Linked DNA regions of Homo sapiens: all the other regions are linked to region 4. Evidence: fine-mapped expression QTL. A gene starts in region 4. Each other region holds a variant in brackets. All regions are shown on one strand. Distances are from middle to middle.

The links.
Region 1: its variant is fine-mapped to the expression of H3-3A in cerebellar hemisphere (GTEx, PIP above 0.99).
Region 2: its variant is fine-mapped to the expression of H3-3A in cerebellar hemisphere (GTEx, PIP above 0.99).
Region 3: its variant is fine-mapped to the expression of H3-3A in whole blood (TOPMed, PIP above 0.99).

Annotation. Positions count from the first base shown.
Region 1 is chr1:226,095,543-226,100,691 of GRCh38, reverse strand. No RefSeq gene overlaps it. Among named protein-coding and RNA genes, the nearest start is that of LINC01703, 15 kb to the right of the region's middle. The variant T/G (reference allele first, on the strand shown) is at 2,818.
Region 2 is chr1:226,034,916-226,040,064 of GRCh38, reverse strand. No RefSeq gene overlaps it. Among named protein-coding and RNA genes, the nearest start is that of H3-3A-DT, 25 kb to the left of the region's middle. The variant A/G (reference allele first, on the strand shown) is at 2,898.
Region 3 is chr1:226,321,380-226,326,528 of GRCh38, reverse strand. No RefSeq gene overlaps it. Among named protein-coding and RNA genes, the nearest start is that of LIN9, 15 kb to the right of the region's middle. The variant G/A (reference allele first, on the strand shown) is at 2,991.
Region 4 is chr1:226,060,381-226,065,529 of GRCh38, reverse strand. H3-3A (H3.3 histone A) reads right to left here and starts at 2,814. Exons shown (of 4, transcript NM_002107.7): 1 at 2,719-2,814; 2 at 1,051-1,201. The coding sequence starts at 1,178. H3-3A-DT (H3-3A divergent transcript) reads left to right here and starts at 3,035. Exons shown (of 2, transcript NR_185887.1): 1 at 3,035-4,540. RefSeq lists an enhancer at 1,143-1,212 and silencers at 2,406-2,475, 3,094-3,259, 2,846-3,695.

The sequences.
Region 1 (5,149 bases), 35 kb before region 4:
TTAACTGTGGGAATTAGGCATTCTTCCTAAATGGTTTGACCTCGGGCCCTTTTAAAATCTTAATGCTTGTTAACAACATCCAAGGCCATGAATATACTTCGGGAAATACAGTCTATTACTCTTTTTTTTTTTTTTTTGAGACGGACTCTTGCACTGTTGCCCAGGCTAGAGTGCAGCCGGGCGCGGTGGCGGGTGCTTGTAATCGCAGCCACTCGGGAGTCTGGGGTCGCTTGAACCCGGGAGGTGGAGGTTGCAATGAGCCGAAATGGTGCCACTGCACTCTAGCCTGGGCGACAGAGCGAGACTCCCTCTGAAAACAAAAACAAAAACAAAAACAAAAAACAAACAAAACCCCCACACATTAGTAGTAGTTATTACCGTGGTCTTCCAAAGGGATTTTTCTCTTTCAAGCAGCAGTTTGGGACTCTTACCTGTTGTTTGCTGGTTATTACCCAATGGTCCAAGGAGTGAAATTTTTGAAAAACTAAACACTAGCTAGGTGTCACCACGAAGTGAACGCTGAATATAAAAGTCATCATTAATATTCATAAAGTAAGTCAGTGGAGAACAATGACTACATTGGTTAAAATCTGGTTTGCACAGAATATTTTAGGAAAACATTGTTTAGGACCCAGTATCCTCCCTCAGTGTGGAAGTCAGTGAATGAAAATTGTATTTGACAAGTTGTTCTTTAAGAAGACACTGCTTATGTGAAATGAAGTCAACTTGAATCCAGTTATGTGTGTCTGTCTCTTACATAAAAAGCCCAGAGGTAGGAATTACAGAGTTGGATGTGCTATGGTCTAAATGTTTGTGCCACCCCTACAAATCCATATGTTGAAAAAATTTTTTTTTCCTTTGAGATGGGGTTTCACTCTGTCACCCAAGCTGGAGTGCAGTGATGTGGTCATGGCTTATTGTAGCCTCAACCTCTCAGACTCAAGTGATCCTCCCACCTCAGCCTCACAAGTAGCTGGGACTGCAGGCATGCCACCACAGCTGGCTAGTTTTAAAACTTTTTATAGAGATGGGGTTTCCCTGTGTTGCCCAGGCTGGTCTGGAACCCCTGGGCTTAAGCAATCCTCCCACCTCACCTCCCAAAGTGCTGGGGTTATAGGCATGAGCCACCATGACTGGCTTGTATGTGGAAATTTTAACCCCCAATTTTTTTTTAACTTTCATTCTCAAAGGAGGTGATTAATCCCCAAATGATGGTATTATGAGGTGGGCCCTTTGAGAAGTGATGAGATGAGGGTGAAGTCCTCATGACTGGGATTAGTGACCTTATAAGAAAGGCCCAGAGAGCTCACTAGTTCCTTTCTCTCTTTGAGGACACAGCAAGAAAACACTGGCTGGCTGGCACAGTGGCTTACACTTGTAATCCCAGCACTTTGGGAGTCTGGGGTGGGAAGGTTGCTTGAGGCCAGGAGTTCCAGACCAGCCTGGGCAACATAAGCAAGATCCCGCCGTCTCTATAAAAAGTTAAAAAAATTAGCCAGGCATGGTAGCACATGCCTATAGTTCCAGCTTCTTTGGAGGCTGAAGTGGTAGGATTGCCTGAGCCCAGGAGTTCAAGGCTGCAGTGAGCCCTGACTGCACTACAGCACTCCAACTTGGGTGATACAGCAAAACCCTATCTCCAGAAAAAAAAAGTTATCTAAAGAGAGTTTGATAGACCTAGCTCATCTCATCCTTCCCACCAGGCCCCACCTCATAGGCCACTGCCCAGGCAACAGAGTGGCCGTGTGGATCCACCTCACTGTGGCTGGGATAGGGAATGGGATCACATGGTCTGCCTGGGGCTGCCCCTTCAGTGGGGAGCTGTGGGCTGGGCATTTCATCTGTAGGAGACTGTGAGGTGAGAGGAAGCAGAGGATATTCTGTGGGAAGAATCTTCATGGACCAGGTGATAAGTGAGCTAGATTTGGAAGAATGGGTGGGATTCTAGTGAGCAGAGAGGGGTAGAACATTCCCGGAGGGGTAAAGGAAATAAAGTATATATTACAGAGCAGGGGGAGCCTCGTGTGGTTGGAGCTGGGAGGTATGGGGAGATGGGGAGGGCAGGGGGAGGGGAGGGGAGAAAGAGTGGAGAGAAATCAGGCAGCGTTGTGCTGAGGCCAGAATGGGTAGGGGCTATATTTTGGGTAAGCTGGGGGAAAGTGGAACTGATGTTCTCTGAGCTGTGCTCTAGGAATCAGAGAGCAGATGGAGGCTGGAGGTAACTGGGAAGGAGCCCACACCTTTCTGGGCATCCTTTGTCATCCATCTTCCTATGTCCAGGCAGGAGCCAACCTGCTCTCCAACCTGGCTTGCACTTGGCTGAACAGACAGTCACTGCCCACTGAGTACCCGTGGGCTCTTCTACCTTTCCAGAACCCTGGCTGCTGGCCAGTGGGCTAGTGCTGGCCAATTGGCTATAATCGGAAGTGTGACCTATATGTGAAAGCAAACAGAGTCTTGGGACCCCAAACTCACTATGCCAAAGGGAAAGTTAAGTTTGGGAACTGAGTCACAGAAAAACTGCCTTCCTTTTGTTCCCAAACAGATAGCGGTAGTTTCACAATCCTGTGTCATAGCCTCATTCGTAAGCCAGGTTCCCACAACAATAGAAGGCTACATATTTCCCAAATTGTTCACAAGGAAATTCCCTGTGGGCCCCTAAACCTTTCAGAATACACATTCCCCTATAAGCTAGTTCTAAAATCAAGTTCTGTTAAACTTCACCCTGACAATGTCAATTATCAGCTTATCTTCACAGGGACAGGATAAGGACAAGACTAGAAATCATCCCTCCTCCTACCCCAAGACTTTGCATAA[T/G]TGACTTGGTCCTCTGTTTCACATGTAAAAGGTACATTCACTAAGGCTAATAGGAACCTAAGATTGTATCCATTTGCCTCATTGTCTACCCTTCTAGGAGCGCAGTGGAGCGATCTCGGCTTACTGCAACCTCCACCTCCTGGGTTCAAGTGATTCTCATGCCTCAGCCTCACAAATAGCTGGGATTACAGGCATGCATCACCATGCCTGGCTAATTTTTGTATTTGTAGTAGAGACAGGTTTGCACCATGTTGGCCAGGCTGGTCTCGAACTCCTTGCCTCAGGTGCTCCACCTGCCTGGATCTCCCAAAGTGCTGGGATTACAGGCGTGAGCCACCACGCCCAGCCCCCTTACCCCGTTTTTTTTTTTTTTTTTTTCCTCTTCTGCTTGCTCTTTCCCCTTCAAATACTGAAGTTCCTGAAACCTTCCTTGGAAAAATCACAGGTTGTAGATGCTTCTGTGACTTGTTTTTGTTTTGTTGGTTTTTTTGCATCCTCAATCATGGTTAAATAAGCTTCTAATCAATTGAGACCTGCCTCAGTCACTTTTTGGTTTACATGTGTCACTACTGGATCAAAAGGTGTAAGTTCTCCATGCCCTCTCTTCCCATGCCATGGTGACTGGTGATTGTCTAGATGGTGGCTCTTCTAGCAACCTGGATCCCTGAGACCCTAGGTGGAACAGAGCCCTGCCCTTCCATCCTCTTTTCTCCACTGCACTGAGCGTATAACATGATTGAGAAATATACTTTGTTGTGTGAAGTCATTGAAGTTTGGGGCTGATTTACTGCGGTAGAACCTAGCCTCACCTGACTAATAGACCAGCTGAGGGAGCTCCTTGCTCAGCGGCATGGGTTCCCCCGACACCCCCACCCCACACAGAGGTAGGCTGGGGTTGAGCAGAGCAGGGGAGGACAGCAGGACTTTGACCCCTGGAGGATTTGGCTTGGATTTCCCTCTCTTTTTTTTTTAATTTAAAAAAATGTATTTATTTATTTACTTAGAGACAGGGTCTTGCTGTGTTGCCCAGGCTGGAGTGCAATGATGCAACCTTAGCTTACTGCAGCCTCGGACTCCTGGGCTCAAGTAATCCTCCCACCTCCGCCTCCTGAGTAGGTAGGACTACAGGAACACACCACCACATCTGACTAATTTTTTTTTTTTTTTTTTTTGTAGAGATAGGTTTGCTATGTTCCCTAGGCTGGTCTCAAACTTCTGGCCTCAAGCAATCCTCCAGCCTCAGCCTTCCAAACTGCTGGGATGACAGGTGTGAACCACCACCCCTGGCTCAGACCTCTCAAAGGGCTCACTGCCTCCAGGGGGACCACAGCTGGGCTGAGCCTGCATTGCCTGAGCGCATACACCTCCACTGTAGAGGGAGAGGGCACCTGCCAGTGGAGGTCAGCCGCAGGCAACACAAGGTGGATTGTGTCTGAATCACCAGTAGCTCTATACAGCAAGGACCCTGTCCTTGAAGCACTGAGGCTGGAGACCAGACTGGGTCCTCAAGGCAACAGCTTCAGTCACCTCCTCCAGCCTTTCCTCCGAGGGGAGCTCTGAGCAAGACAAGCTTGATCATGTTACTTCCCTACTTAAAAACCTAGGATAGGGGCCAAGCAAAGTGGCTCATACCTGTAATCCCAGCACTTTGGGAGGCCGCGGCGGGGGCGAGCGGATCACTTGAGGTCAGGAGCTCAAGACCAGCCTGGCCAACATGATGAAACCTCATCTCCACTAAAAATACAAAAATTAGCTGGGCGTGGTGGTGTGCACCTGTAGTCCCAGCTACTCAGGAGGCTGAGGCAGGAGAATTGCTTGAACCCAGGAGGCAGAGGTTGCAGTGAGCTGAGAGGGTGCCATTGCACTCCAGCCTGGACGACAGAGCTAGACTCTGTCTCAAACAAACAAACAAACACACACCACCTCCAATAGGCCAGGCTGCTCATGCCTGTAATCCCAGCACTTTGGGGAGCTGAGGCAGGAGGACTCTTGAGTCTAGGAGTTGGAAACTAAACAGGGCAACATAGAGAGACCCTGTCTCTGATTAAACAAACAAACAAAACCCATAAAAATTAGGATAAGGTCCACATACCCTGGTCAAGCTTCAAGGTTGTTTGCAACCTGGCCCCAGGAAAGCAAAGTCCTGAAGAGTGGCTGCGGCAGACTGGCTCCTTCACCATTGCTCTGCTACAGCCACTACCAAGAGTTTTGTCTTCCCCAACTCCCTGATAGGTTCATGCACCTGGACAGTGGCATAAGCCATTCCCCACACCTAGAATGCCCTCACATGTCTCCTGCCCCTTTGCCTCTCTGGCCTGCTTTCGCTCCCTCC
Region 2 (5,149 bases), 25 kb after region 4:
GTCGCCCAGGCTGGAGTGCAATGGTGCCATCTCGGCTCACTGCAACCTCCATCTCCCAGGTTCAAGTGATTCTCCTGCCTCAGCCTCCCGAGTAGCTGGGATTACAGGCATGCACCACCATGCCTGGCTAATTTTTGTTCTTTTAGTAGAGACGGGGTTTCACCATGTTGACCAGACTGGTCTCAAACTCCTGACCTCAGGTGATCCGCCTGCCTCAGCCTCCCAAAGTGCTGGGATTACAGGCGTGAGCCACTGTGCCTGGCCAACTTTTTAAAATCCTTATTGCGTTTTAGATTACAAGTACAACATTAAGTTATGTAAAATTTGAACACTACAGGCCGGTCGTGGTGGCTCATGCCCCTAGCACTTTGGGAGGCCTAGGCAGGCGGATCACCAGAGGTCAGGAGTTCGAGACCAGCCTGGCCAACATGGTGAAACCCCGTCTCTACTAAAAATATTAGCCAGGCATGGTGGCAGATGCCTGTAATCCCAGCTACTCGGGAGCTGAGGCAGGAGAATCGCTTGAATCCGGGAGGCGGAGGTTGCAGTGAGCCGAATTGTGCCACTGCACTCCACTCTGGGTGACAGAGCAAGACTCTGTCGCAAAAAAAAAAAAAAAAAAAAAGGCGCAGTGGTTCACACCTGTAATCCCAGCACTTTGGGAGGCCAAGGTGGGCGGATCACGAGGTCAGGAGATTGAGACCATCCTGGCTAACACGGTGAAACCCCGTCTCTACTAAAAATACAAAAAATTAGCTGGGCGTGGTGGCGGGTGCCTGTAGTCCCAGCTACTCGGGAGGCTGAGGCAGGAGAATGGCGTGAACCCGGGAGGTGGAGCTTGCAATGAGCCGAGATCGTGCCACTGCACTCCAGCCTGGGTGACAGAGTAAGACTCTGTCAAAAAAAAACAAAAACAAAAACAAAAAACTACAAAAGTATATAATATATAAAGGAGAGTCTTCCATTGAATTAACCCATACATACACTAGAAACCACCGCTGTCAAGAGTATGGTGCATGTTTGTCTAACTTGTAAAAAGTATATGTATGATCCGAATGACTGAAATAAAAAATAATGACACCATTAAATGCTGGTGAGGATAGAGAGAACTTTGATCACTCACATATTGCCAGTAGGAAAATAAAATGGCATGGCCACTCTAGCAAAGAATATGACTGCTTCTTACAATATTAAATATGCACCTGCCATATGATGCAGCAATTACACTCCTGGGCATCTACCCAGAGAAATGAAAGTTTTTATGTTCCTGGTCATAACTGTTCACAATAGCTTTATTCCTAATTGCCCCAAACTGGAAACAACTGAAATGTCCTTTAATGGTGGAAGGTTCAATAAACTATGGTACATTCATACCATGGAATACTACTCAGCAATAAAAGGGAAGGAATTATTGATACACATGACGATCTGGATGGATCTCCAGAGAATTTTGCTGAGTGAAAAAAGCCAATCTCAAGTTGCATACTGTGTGATTCGTTTTAGATAATATTCTTGAAACAATAAATGTATAGAGATAGAAAACAGATCAGGGGTCAGGTAGAAGGGAAGAGTGACTGTGGCCATAAAAAGGTAGCATAAGGGGTCTGTGTGGTGGAACTGTTCTTCATCTTGAGTTTGGTGGTGGTCACGTGAATCCACACATGTAAACTTGCTTAGAACCAAATACACACACATGAGTGGCTGGGTATGGTGGCTCATGCCTGTAATCCCAGCACTTTGGGAGGCTGAGGCAGGCATATCACTTGAGGTCAGAAGTTCAAGACCAGCCTGGCCAACATGGTGAAACCCCATCTCTACTAAAAATACTAAAATTAGCTGAGTGTGATGGCACATGCCTGTAATCCCAGCTACGCAGGAGACTGAGGCTGGAGAATCACTTGAACCCTGGAGGTGGAGGTTGCAGTGAGCCGAGATCGCGCCACTGCACTCCAGCATGGGCAGCAGAGTGAGACTCCATCTCAAAAAAAAAAAGAACTAAATACTAAAAAACTAAAAATTGATGACATCTGAGTAATGGCGAAGGGTTCTATCAATGTCAGTTTCCTGGCTGTGATATTGTACAATAGTTATATAAGATGTTACCATTGGGGGGAAATGGGTGAAGGGTACGCAGGATCTCTCTGCATATTTCTTTTTTCAATAAATTTTATTGAGATAAAATTCACGTAATATTTACCTTTTTAATGTGTAAAATTTAGTGGTTTTTAACATATTTACAAAGTTGTGCAACTTCAGCACTATCTAATTTTAGAACCTCTTCATCACCCCCAAAAGAAACCCTGTATCCATTATTAGTTACTCCCTGTTCCCCTCTCCCCCAGCTCCTGGCAGCCACTAATCTACTTTCTGTCTCTGGATTTGCCTACTCTAGATATTTCATATTAATGGAATCATACAATATGTGGCCTTGTGTCTGGCTTCTGTCACTTAGCACAAGGTTTTCAAAATCCATCTATTAATATTTTATAAAATGTGTCTGCACTTCATTTCTTTTTACAGCCAAATAATACTTCATTGTATGGGTCTACTTCTGCATTTTATTTATCATATTCATAAGTTGATGGACATTTGGGTTGTTTCTACTTCTTGGCTACTATGAATAATGCTGCTGTGGACATTCATGTACTAGTTTTTGTGTGAACATGTGTTTTTAATTCTCTTAGGTATTTATACCTAGGAGTGGAATTGCGGAGTCATATAGTAACTGTATGTTTAACTTTCTTTTTCTTTTTTTTTTTTTTTTGAGATGGAGTCTCACTCTGTCGCCCAGGCTGGAGTGCAGTGGCGTGATCTCGGCTCACTACAACCTCTGCCTCCCGGGTTCAAGCGATTCTCCTGCCTCAGCCTGAGGCCTGAGTAGCTGGGATTACAGGTGC[A/G]CGCCACCACGCCCAGCTAATTTTTGTATTTTTAGTAGAGACGGGGTTTCACCGTGTTGGTCAGGCTGGTCTCGAACTCCTGACGTCGTGATCCACCTGCCTTGGCCTCCCAAAGTGCTGGGATTACAGGCGTGAGCCATCGTGCCCGGCCCTCTGTGTTTAACTTTCTAAGGAATCACCAAGCTTTTTTCAAAGGGGTGGCACTGTTTTGCATTTCCATAAGCAATGTCTGAGGGGTCTGATTTCTCCACATCCTTACCAACATTTGTTATTGTCTGGTTTTTTTTTTTTTTTAATTACAGCCATCCTAGTAAGTGTGAAATTGTAAGACATTGTGATTCTATATTATCTCCCTTTTTTTTTTTTTTTTTTTTGAGATAGGGTCTTGCTCTGTCACCCAAACTGGAGTGCAGTGGTGTGATCACAGCCCACTGAAGCCTCAACCTCCCAGGCTCAAGTGATCTTCCTATCTCAGCCTCCCAAGTAGCTAGGGCTACAGGCATGTACCACCATGCTTGGCTAATTATTTTCTTTTTTATAGAGACAGGATTGTACTGTCTCTTATAATTGCATGTAAATTGGCCTGGCACAGTGGCTCACACCTCTATTCCCAGCACTTTGGGAGGCCAAGGTGGGTGGATCACTTGAGGTCAGGAGTTCGAGACCAGCCTGGCCAACATGGTGAAACCTGTCTCTACTAAAAATACAAAAATTAGCTGGGCTCAGTGGCACATGCCTGTAATCCTAGCTATTTGGGAGGCTGAGGCAGGAGAATCACTTGAACCCGAGAGGCGGAGGTTGCAGTGAGCCGAGATCGTGCCACTGCACTCCAGCCTGGGCAACAACAGTGAAACTCCGTCTCAAAAAAATTGAGCCACCACACCCAGATAAATTTTGTATTTTTAGTAGACACGGGGTTTCACCATGTTGGCCAGACTAGTCTTGAACTCCTGACTTTGTGATCCACCCGCCTCCGTCTCCCAAAGTGCTGGGATTACAGGCATGAGCCACTGCACCCGGCCTACCTGGTGTTTGTTAAATGAACACTTGGGTGAACTGAAAACACCCAGTGATGCTCCAGAAAGGAGCACAAGTGCAGTAGGAAGGGGAGGAGTTTTTCCTATTGGCAAGAGGCCTCATGGAGACTACATCATGGTAGAATTGGTAGAATTGGAACTGCTCTGTGAGCAGCAGAAAGAAGGAAAGTGAGAAAGGAAGAGGGAAAAACCTTGGGGCTATTCCCTGGGAGTCTTAGAGCCAGCAGGAGATTCTTCTTTCACTGCTGCCCACAGGCAAAGAGGGAAGTAAAAAGGTGAAGGAAGATACAGAGAGCTCCTCTGTCTCTGCTGTGCCTCCTTTGCTGAATTCAGCACCTACATGCTAAATGCAAAAGCCCTTTATTTACTCAAAAGAAGTTTGGACTCAATGGTCCCAAATGCTTGGCACCTCTTTCCTCCTCAGGTAGGATGAGAATCCCTCTGAACAAAGCTGGATAATGGCTTTACTATGTCCATGGAAATTTTCCCCCTGGGAATAATGCCTTTCTCAATTATATGGGCATTTTCAGTGTACACCTCTTTGGAAAAGGTCAAGAACAAGCCATATAAATACAATCTTTTCTAATTATACATTTATATTTGGGTAAAAGTTCTTTCATAGTAGGGATCAAAGAGAATATAGAACTTAAAGACAGAGAGAACTCTCCAGAAGAAAGTCTGAACTTACCTAACAAAAAGTTAGATGAACAGCATTGGTTGTTTTTTTTCCTTTTTTTGCTTATATATATTATATGCCTTACAATGAATATGTCTTACTTTCCTAATAAGAGAAAAAAGCAATACGTTTATTTAAACCCTAAGAATTGCTGCCGGGCGTGGTGGTTCACACCTGTAATCCCAACACTTCGGGAGGCCGAGGTGGATCGTTTGAGGCCAGGAGTTCATAACCAGCCTGGGGAACATAGTGAGACCCCGCATCTACAAAAAAAAAAACAAAGAAAGAAAAGAAAAAAACCTATAAAAATCCGGGTGTGGTGGCACACACCTGTGGTGCCAGCTACTCGGGAAGCTGTGGTTGGACGATCACTTGAGCCAGGGTCGAGGCTGCAGTGAGCTATGATCATGCCAGTGCACTCCAGCCTGGGCAACAGACAGAGACCCTGTCTTAAAAAAATAAAATAAATAAAATAAAATAAGATAAAAAAGAATTGCTCATTAGCGGACATGGAGTAAAGGTTATCAGAAGAAAAAGCA
Region 3 (5,149 bases), 260 kb before region 4:
ATTACCTTCCATGTTTGCTTGCTGAAAGGACTCACAGGACTCCAACAGTTTCTATACTCATACAGACCAGTTTTGTTTTGTTTTGTTTTGTTTTTTGAGAGTCTCACTCTGTCACCCGGGCTGGAGTGCAGTGGCAGATCTCGACTCACCCCAATCTCTACCTCTCGGGTTCAAGCAATTCTCCCACCTCAGCCTCTCGAGTAGCTGGGATTACAGGTGTGCACCACCATGCCCAGCTAATTTTTGTATTTTTAGTAGAGACAGGGTTTCACCATCTTGGCCAGGCTGGTCTTGAACTCCAGACTTCACATGATCCACCTTCCTCAGCCTCCCAAAGTGCTGGGATTACAGGCGTGAGCCACCCAGCCCAGCCCTCACATATCAGTTTTTAACAGGCAAAGGATACAGTATGGTAACAGCAGGCAACGTTATGCAAAGAAGGGGCTACAGATCTCAGGCACAGGCTTCTTTGTTCTGTCTCTGCTGACTCCCACTGCCTGTGCTACACGTTCAGGTCTTGAACCGTCATGTGTGTACATACCAGGAAGTCCAAAGCTCACTCATGGTGGGATCTCTTGGAGTGAACTGGTCACATAGGCATGTTTTAGCTCCATGACCAGCCTTAATATTGAAATCCTCCAGGCTCCATCAAAGAAACAATTATTAAACAGTGCTGATGGGCTGGTATGTCCTGTTCCCCAAACAATCCACAGACCGATGGTTACAGAACATCATTTGATATATTCCATAGTGTTGGCCAAGGGTCACCATCAGGCTCCAGGCAGCTCTACAGGTAAGCGTGCAGCCTATCCTGACCAGACCACACAGGAGCCCCCACAGCCAAGAAAGCCCATTAGAGGAGGCATGGAATGGGCTGGTTTGAGCAGCTCTGCCATGCGCAGTTATTGGCTAGGAGCAGCCTGGGGAGAGCATGGTGTTGATATGAATACTGTGGCAGAGCTTAGGGACAGCAGTTGGAGGCTGGAGATCTCAGTGGCTGTGATGGTTAAGGTTAGGTGTCAACTGGATTGGATTAAGGAACACCTACAGAGATGGTAAAACATTCCTTCTGGGTGTGTCTGTCTGGGTTTCCAGAGCAGACTGGCGTGTGAGTCAGTGGACTAAGAGGGGAAGATCTTCCCTCAATGTGGCTGGGCACCAACCAATTGGCTGGGGGCCAAGATAGAACAAAAAAAGGAGAGAAAAGGATTTCCTCTCTCTCCTGGAGCTGGGACCTACTCTTCTCCTCCTGTCCTTGGATATCAGGACCCCAGGCTCTCCAGCCTTGAGACTCTAGGGCTTACATGAGCACCACCCACCCCACCAGGTTCTCAGGCTTTGGGGCTTGGGCTGAGAATTACACCATTGGCATCCCTGGTTCTAAGACTTTTTGACTTGGATTGAGCCACAATACCAGCATCCCAGGGTCTCCAGCTTGCAGATGGCCTGTCATGGGACTTCTCAGCTTCCAGAATCATGTGAGCCAATTCCCTAATAAATCCCTTCTCCTCTGTCTGTATATGTATGTATGTATGTATGTATGTATGTATGTATCTATCTATCTATCTATCTATCTATCTATCTATCTATCTAATCATCCCCTGTTGGTTCTCTCTCTCTAGAGAACCCTGACTAGCAGTGGTGCACCTCCATAGGTATCAAAACCCATTTCAGGAAAGGTTTCAAAAGCCCTCTATACTTGTGAGGCCCCTGTTTATCTCTTGAGTCTTAGCTTTTGCCACATCTAATTTTAAACTCTTCAACTATCCTCAACTACTTAAAGTTCCTGGGATAAAAGCTCTGTTCTTTCTTTCCCCTGGGCCTTTGCACATGACTTTCTGCCAATCATAGTACTTTCTTCTTCCACTTCCTCTCTCTAACTTCTACTCAGCCTTCAGGTCTCAGTTCAAAGACTGGGAAACATTTCTTACCTCACCCCCTATCAACCTCTGATTAAGTTCAGGACATGCTACCCACAAATACAGCACTTTGGTATTTGAGAAAACAGCAGAAGCAAGTAGGTCCATCTCATCTTCCTCTCAGCCTTCTCCCTTGAAGCAGGTCATGAGACCTCATTGGAGAGGTCCCTCCCTATACCTAGAGGAAAGGGACATCCTTATCTCTGAACACACAGAGACACAAAGAAAAATCGGAACAAATAGGTCTTGCTAAGTGGTCCCCTCACACTTTATTAACATTAGATCATACTTTTTATCCAATTATATTTTTCCAGGACCATCCACTTCTCCATCAAACCTAGCATAAAATATACACAGATTTACCTGTTTGTTTGGGCCATTTCCTTTTTTTGTTTTTTTGAGACGGAGGTTTGCTCTGTTGTCTGGGCTGGAGTGCAGTGGCTTGCTCTTGAATCACTGCAAGCTCTGCCTCCCGGGTTCAAGCGATTCTCCTACCTCAGCCTCCCAAGTAGCTGGGATTACAGGCGCATGCCACCACACCCAGCTAATTTTTGTAATTTTAGTAGAGACTGGGTTTCGCCATCTTGGCTAGGCTGGTCTCAAACTCCTGGCCTCAGGTGATCAGCCCACCTCAGTCTCCCGAGGCATTACAGGCGCGAGCCACTGCACCCAGCCATTTCCTTTTAAAGTCTCCCATGTCGCATGAAACTTAAATAAATAAATGTGTATACTTTTCTTGTTAAACTATCTTTTGTTATAGGGGCTTCAGCCACAAACCCAGTGATGATCAAGGAAAAAATATTTCTTTTCCTCCCCTACATCCCGCACTCCACTATGCTCCTACAGTATCTTGACCTCAGCCCTAGGACAGCTACTGTCAAACTATTGCAATTGCTTATGGAATGTGTCTGTGTCTTCCCTTAGACTGAAAGCTCTGCGAGGCACTATGTCACATTGAATTTTGCAACCTTAGTTCCTGCCACATAGTAGGTGCTTAATTAATAAGTATTTGCTGGCCAATTACTGAATAATCGTACCCTATTAAATTGCCTAGAATACTAGGGGTTATGA[G/A]AAGACAGCAGAATTGATGACTATAAACCTTTTTCTTTTCTTTTTTTTTTTTTTTTTTTTTTGAGACAGGGTCTTGCTCTGTTTCCCAGGCTGGACTGCAGTGGTGCAATCATAGCTCACTGGAGCTTCAACCTCCCCAGCCCAACTGATCCTCACACCTCAGCCTCCTGTGTAGCTGGGACTACAGGCGCACACCACCTCACCCAGCTAATTTTTGTGGAGGCAGAGTTTGACTATGTTGCCCAGGCTATTAAACTCTTAATGTTTCCTTGGACACATACAGGTCCTGAAGGGGCAATCTTTCTGGGTTAGAATTCACAAATCTGCACTGTGTTGAGTCATCCAATCTTTCTGGTTTGGGCAGTTCTGATGACAAGGTATTCCTCCTTGGGTAGCCTGGGCTGGTGGGCTCCTCTAGCTTATATGTGCTAATTCATTTAAGAAATTCTGAACAGGCCAAGTGCCGGTAATCCCATCACTTTGGGAGACTGAGGGCGGATTGCTTGAGCTCAGGAGTTCTAGACCAGCCTGGGCAACATGGCAAAACCCTGTCTCTACAAAAAATAGTGTGCCCCTGTAGTAGCGTGCCTCTGCAGTCCCAGCTATTTGGCAGTCCGAGGTGGGAGGATGTGGCTTGAGCCTGGGAGGTTGAGGCTGCAGGAGCTGTGATTGCCCCACTGCAGTCCAGCCTGAGCAACAGAGTGAGACCCCGTCTCAAAAAATAAATAAATAAATAAATAAATAAATAAAATTGCCTAGTAGAGTGCCTCTTTGACTTCACATCTTCATTAAGTGCCTAGGAAGGGGTCTAGCACAAAACGACTACCAAAGATTTTAAGATTGGGATAAAACCTAGTCTGAAAACAAGATTTTCCTTGTAACACATTTATTGAGTTATACTTCACAGACCACAATTCACCTATTTAAAATACACAATTCTATAGTTTTTAGTATATACTAGTTCACACTTAACCCTGGGGGATACATTCCAGGACCCCCATTGGATGCCTGAAACTGACGATAGTACTGAATCCTATATATACTGTTTTCTCTATACATACATACCTACGATAAAGTTTAATTTGTAAATTAGCAAAGTAAGAGATTAACAACAATAACTAATAATAAAATAGAACAGGCTGGGCACAGCGGCTCACGCATGTAACCCCAGCACTTTGGGAGGCCAGGGCAAGCAGACTGCTTGAGCCCAGGAGTTCAAGACCAGCCTGGGCAACATGGCAAAACCCCATCTCTATAAAATATACAAAAATTGCTGGGTGTGGTGATGCATGCCAGTGGTCCCAGCTACTATGGAGGCTGAGGTAGCAAAATCACCCGAGCCTGGGGAGGTCCAGGCTATAGTGAGCCATCATTGCACCCCTGCACTCCAGCCTGGATGACAGACCTTGTCTCAAAAATAATAATAAAACAGAGCAATCACAGCAATATACTGTAACAAATGTATACTGTAATACAAGTTACTGTATATTGTAACTGTGTCTCTAAATATCTTATACTGTACTCATCTCTTTTCGGACCTCAGTTGTTTATGGGTAAATGAAACCACGGCAAGAGAAACTCTGGAGAAGTGGGGACTACTGTATGCACAGAGTTGTGCAACCACCAGGGTTGATTTCAGGACTTTTTTTTGAGACGGATTCTTGCTGTCACCCGGGCTGGAATGCAGTGGCACGATCTCAACTCACTGAGCCTCTGCCTCCCAGGTTCAAGTGATTCTCCAGCCTCAGCCTCCCGAGTATCTGCATTACCACTGCCCACCACCACACCCAGTTAATTTTTGTATTTTTAAAACAGACAGGGTTTCACCGTATTGGTCAGGCCGGTCTTGAACTCCTCTCCCCAAGTGATCTACCCTCCTCAGCCTCCCAGAGTGCTGGGATCACAGGCGTGAGCCACCACACCCGGCCAATTACAAGACATTTTCATCACCCCAAAATGAAACCCTGTACAGTGGACTGAACACGGCGGCTCCAGCACTTTGGGAGACTGAGGCAGAAGGATCCCTTGAGGCCAGTGGGTCCGGAGTCGGTTCTTTCCGGTGGGTTCTTGGTCTCACTGACTTCAAGAATGAAGCTGCGGACGTTGGTGTTGAGTGTTAAGAAGTCACAAAAACGGTGTGTCCAGAGTTTGTTCCTTCA
Region 4 (5,149 bases):
ATCAAATTTCACTGATCAACTTAAGATGTGAACATTCAAATCTAGTAACAATACCTTTAAAGCAAAAAGCATGAAATTAAAATGCATTCTTAGCAAGAAATTCATCAAAGCCCTATTTATTTTCATTTTAAAAAGTTATTCATGTATATAAACCTTGGGAAGGTATTAGCTGTCAGGCTAATGAAGAAGTTGGCTCCCCTCAATTTAGCACCACTCTCCTTCCCTACACCCTCTATTATCTTAAGAGCCCTTAAAGATGACCAACACAACCCAATGAACTTCATTTAAAAATCTGCTTGTGGCATTCAAGTTCTATTTCCCAGAATACCTCTACCCTGACTACAGTTCACCCCTCATCAACTATTAAATTTGAATACACCCGATTGTGCAGTGTTCCTTCCACGTGGAAAAGTTTTTTTTACTAAGTAATTGTCAGCAAGAAATTTACCTCTCATTCTGACTTATTTCTTCCACTGTATGAGCTTTTATTTTAGGTTAATCGTAATATTTGCGGAGGCTAAGTCTAGGCAACTTCTGCCCTCTAATGGCAGATGCCCTTAACAACACAGTGGCTCAGGTAGTTCACAATCAAAAGAGCTAATACAGAAGGAAATAAGCTAATCAAGTAAATGAGGGGGTAGGAACTTTATAAAACACCCAATCTCGATTATATTATTATTTTGCCAAAAACTAGGAAAGATAACCTCAAAAGTGTATTCAAGAAAGCAACACTTAACTATTTTTAAAGAATTACTAATAGTTAACTAAAATGTCAATATATCCCATTAACATTATCAGTGATATACGAGGTCTCCTTAGACCTCCAGGTAAGATTATGGCTTCAAAGTTAAACGTTTTCAATAAAACCTAATACTTAACTTTATATATAAATGATCATACAGTACATTTATTTAAGCAGTAGTTAAGTGTTCAAATGAAAAAAAAAAGTTTCTCTAAAGCAAAAAGTTTTCCTGTTATCCATCTTTTTGTTAAATTATGTGGATACATACAAGAGAGACTTTGTCCCATTTTTTTCCTGTTTTTTAATACCTGTAACGATGAGGTTTCTTCACCCCTCCAGTAGAGGGCGCACTCTTGCGAGCGGCTTTTGTAGCCAGTTGCTTCCTGGGTGCTTTACCACCGGTCGATTTGCGGGCAGTCTGCTTTGTACGAGCCATGGTACAGAGACCTCCTTACTTACCTACCAGCATTGAAAAATCAAAAATCACCATATGCAACTACCAAACATACAACTTTTCCTGCCACGATCACCCCCTCCCCAAATCTGGAAATTATGATCAGTATAAAAAATAATGTTCGTATTGTTATATAATTTGAAAGGGTGAAGATTACGTCTACCCAAAATCTCTTCTTGAAACAAACTAGAGTACTAGAAAATTGTTAGCAGTATCAATCACCTCTCAAAATGCCAATTCTGAGCGACAAACGGCAAAACAAAAATACCTCGAACGGCCTTTGATCCAATTTATTTAATTAAAGCAGTAATTAGAAATGTCTGTAAACATTCCATCCACAAACAAGTCAAAAGAAAAAAGGCACAAACCACTGGAAGGTCGAGTCAAATTACAGCAAAAAAAAGGTCTTACTCCCCCCCACTTTGGCTGCCCCCCCTTCGTCTGACTGTTGATGGATTGCTGTAAATATCTGAAAATATTCTTGGTTTTGCATCTTTACAGTTATGTTGACAAAAAGGCGTCTCGAAAAAACAAGAGAGGAACAACAGCTACCACCAGCGAGCATTCTACAAAGCCCCGTCCTCGCGTCCAGTCCTCACAGGCTTCGCAGTGAAATAAAAAGTGCCCCGCACCCAGGCTTTAATTAACGCACGACATCCGCCGACCGGTCCACCCCAAGCACCACATAAACTTTTGGTTTTGCCTCCTTCGGGTCCCTCGGCACAGGGTCCCCCAACCTGCCCGCCTCGCTCCCAGCGCCTCGAGCAGGAACCAACTCGGCTCCCCGACCAGAACAAAATGGAAACAATCGCAAAACGTATCCGATTCCGTTCCAAAGAGACAAAACACCAAATCGCTCGAAAATACCCCTATCCCCTGCCACGTGCCGCCCTCCAAAATGCAAAAGTTTTTTTTGCATTTCAAATGCATCAAGTTTCCGCCTCTCCAAAAAAGGGAAAAAAACGTCCCTCTTTTAAAAATTCTTGCTTTTTTGAAATGGGGAAGAGAGAAACGGGGGAAAAAATATGGTCGGTGACCAGAGAAGAGAGACAAGATGGTGAAGCTTAGCAACAACTGTGGGGAGGCAGCAAAAAGCGAGTTACCCCAGGGTGCGAAGCGGCGGCGATTTCCACCCCTTTCCCGCTCGAAAACTGGGGGCTGGGGCCCGGGGGCGGTAGTTAAGAGGCCCGCGCGGGTCATGGTGAAGGTTTGGGGTCCGGGGAAGGGGCGGCGGGCGGGATTTCACCGAAGAAAGAGGAGCCAGGGGCGCGGGGAGGAGGAGGGAGAGCAGGCTCGGCGCCGCGGCGGTTGCTGCTGTTGGGCTGAGGCGGCGAGAGACGGGGGAGCCGCCGCCGCCAGAGGGAACAGGGAAACTCGCTCCTCACCTCCATTTCTGGGCCAAAAAGTTTGTGGGCTAAGCCGGAGGGGCTATGGGTCCCCTCCCGGCACCGCCAGGGCCCGGCTCGGGGCTGACGGCAAGCGGGGCTCGGTTCCGGGGAAGCGGGCAGACGGGGAAACTTACCCCCCTTCTCCTTCGGCTGGAGCTCGGCGAGCGAGAGGCGGCGCTGGCGTTGGAGAGCGACGGCGGCGCGGCGGCGGCTGCGAACACAATTGAAAGATGGCTGACACCGAGGCTATCCCCCAACACACGCCGCCCCGCCCCCGCGCCGCGCGCCAGCCAATCACACACAATGGAGGGAAGGCTCGGCCCCGCCCCCATAGCTCCTCTCGCGCCCCGCCCCCGCCCTTCCCCCCGCGCGCCCGTTCGCTGGCGCGCGCTCGCCCCTCCCCCGCGCGCCGCCCGCTCCCTCCTCCAGGCCGCCTCGCGCCGTGTGTGTACAAACACAAAAGACACGCTGAGGGGCCGCCGGCTCCCGCCGAGACTGCCGCCCGCACCCGGCCAGCCCCCGCCCCCGGCCCTGCACTCCCATCCCGCTCCGTGTGCGCACGGCGTCGAACCCCCGAAGCCCGGGTTTGGGGCGCCCGGAGGGAAGTGGGGGGAGGGGAAGGCGGGCGGAGGCGCGGCGGGTGAACGCCCGGCCTGCGGGCGTCTCGGGCCGCGGCGGGGAGGGGAGGGAGGGGCTGCCCCCGCGCGGGCCCCGGCGCGCGCCCCCGAGGAGACCCGGGCGGCAGTGGGGGAGGAGGACGCGGTCGGCCGGGTCGCCGCGCCCCATTGGAAAACGCTCCCCAGCAGGAAGCTGGCAAATAGGAATCCAGCGTCCCGCGCCCGCTGTCGGACCTGGCCGCTGCGGCAGCGGGAGGGGCGGACCGACGGCCTCCTTCCCGCCTGCGCGCTCGGCCAAGTGCGGCCGGGTCCTGCGGGACCGGCCCGAGTCCGCCGTAGACAACTTGATCCGCTAAGACTCCTGGGCCGGCCGCCTGCGTGCAGGGCAGCCCCTCGCCGGTGTTGGCCTCCGGGATCAGGGGACGGGGCTCGCTCTCCTCCCGGGCCCGGGCCCCCGACGCAAGATGGCTGTGTCGCGTCGGCCTCTAAACAATGTGTGGAGCGCGCAGCTCCTGCACCAGGGCCTGGTGGCTTGTCCTGCCCGCCCGTGGGGGCCGTGTGATCTGTTTTCGGTAGGATTGCTTTGGAAAGGAATTGCCGAATATAGATAGTCAAATGTCCGCAGCTTCTGCATAGTTTAGAAGAGGCTGAAAACGGCAGAAAGAAGGCAAACGTGGTTTGGGAATTAGTACATATACCTGTTTTCCAATTCTCAGTAGCATAGGAAACGGACTTTTCATGGCCCAAGTTATCCTCACGACTTGTCAGTTGATTGGCTTTGGAACCTCTGAACCGTCCCTAGATGGTATTGACGCTTCACAACTGTGTGTAAAGGTTTTCAATGGAAGGGTCATGCAAATATCCCGTAGGGTAGTGAAGGAGGAAAATTTCATAAATGAAGGGCAGTAATTATTTGTAATCTGAAGATCTCACAAAGCGGCTTAGTGATAAACATTATCCCGAAACAGATACATGGAAATCAGATACGAGGGAAGAAATGGATTTGTCCAAGGTCACTTAAGTGAGGAAGAGACCTAGGAGAAACAAACAGACAAAAATCCAGGCCTCCCGTTTCATTATTATTTCATGAATGTTAAGTGTCCATGGTTGCTGTGCAGAACACATGCAATCTCTAATCCTATCCTAAAAGCACATATGCAATCAGCTTGGACCGAGCTGCCAGCAAAGAATTTCCTATAATTCAAGCCAAGATGAGTTATTTTGCTTGTTTTTTGTTTTGTTTTCAGGAAACCGAAATATTTATTGTTGGATTTATCCAGGAAGGCTGTTCTGCATTAGTTAAATGCATCATATCTTCAAGAAATGTTAAATGACATGGGTAATGTTTTCTTTGTATGCTGGATTTTTCAATAGCTTCTACTTCTTGGCTTTAAAAAATATTTCTAACCAAGGGTCAGACCATTTTAGGTAGAGTAATTATGATCTTAGATGATTTGAACTAACTCAGCTGTCTGTCCATTTGTGAAATGGGAATAATAATATTTATCTCTATGAAGTTAGGCCACAAATTCTTTCTAGTAGGTTCAAGTATTTAAGCACCTGGAGAGGTGACTGGTTACCCTCCTAGTGGCTTCAGGAAGTTTTCTCACTGAATGAATATTTATTGAGTGCCAACTCTGCTCAGCACAATTCAGGGGTGCTGGGAATGCAGCAGTGAATAACACAAGCAGTGTTCCTGCCCTCATGGGGCTTATGATCTCTGGAAGCACTGCTTTGCACAGGGAAGTAGCACCAGGAGGGGGTAAAGAAAGAGGGACTTTGGAGCCCCAAGATTGGCAAAAACTATAGCTAATGAGAGAGGTGAACTGTAGAGTCTAGATAATGGGGAAGGAGAGGTGCCAGAGCAAGAAGGGATTCTCACAGGGCCCTACGGGTCAGTCCTGAATTGGCTTTACTAGAACTCAGGCCCAGCACAATGGCTCACATC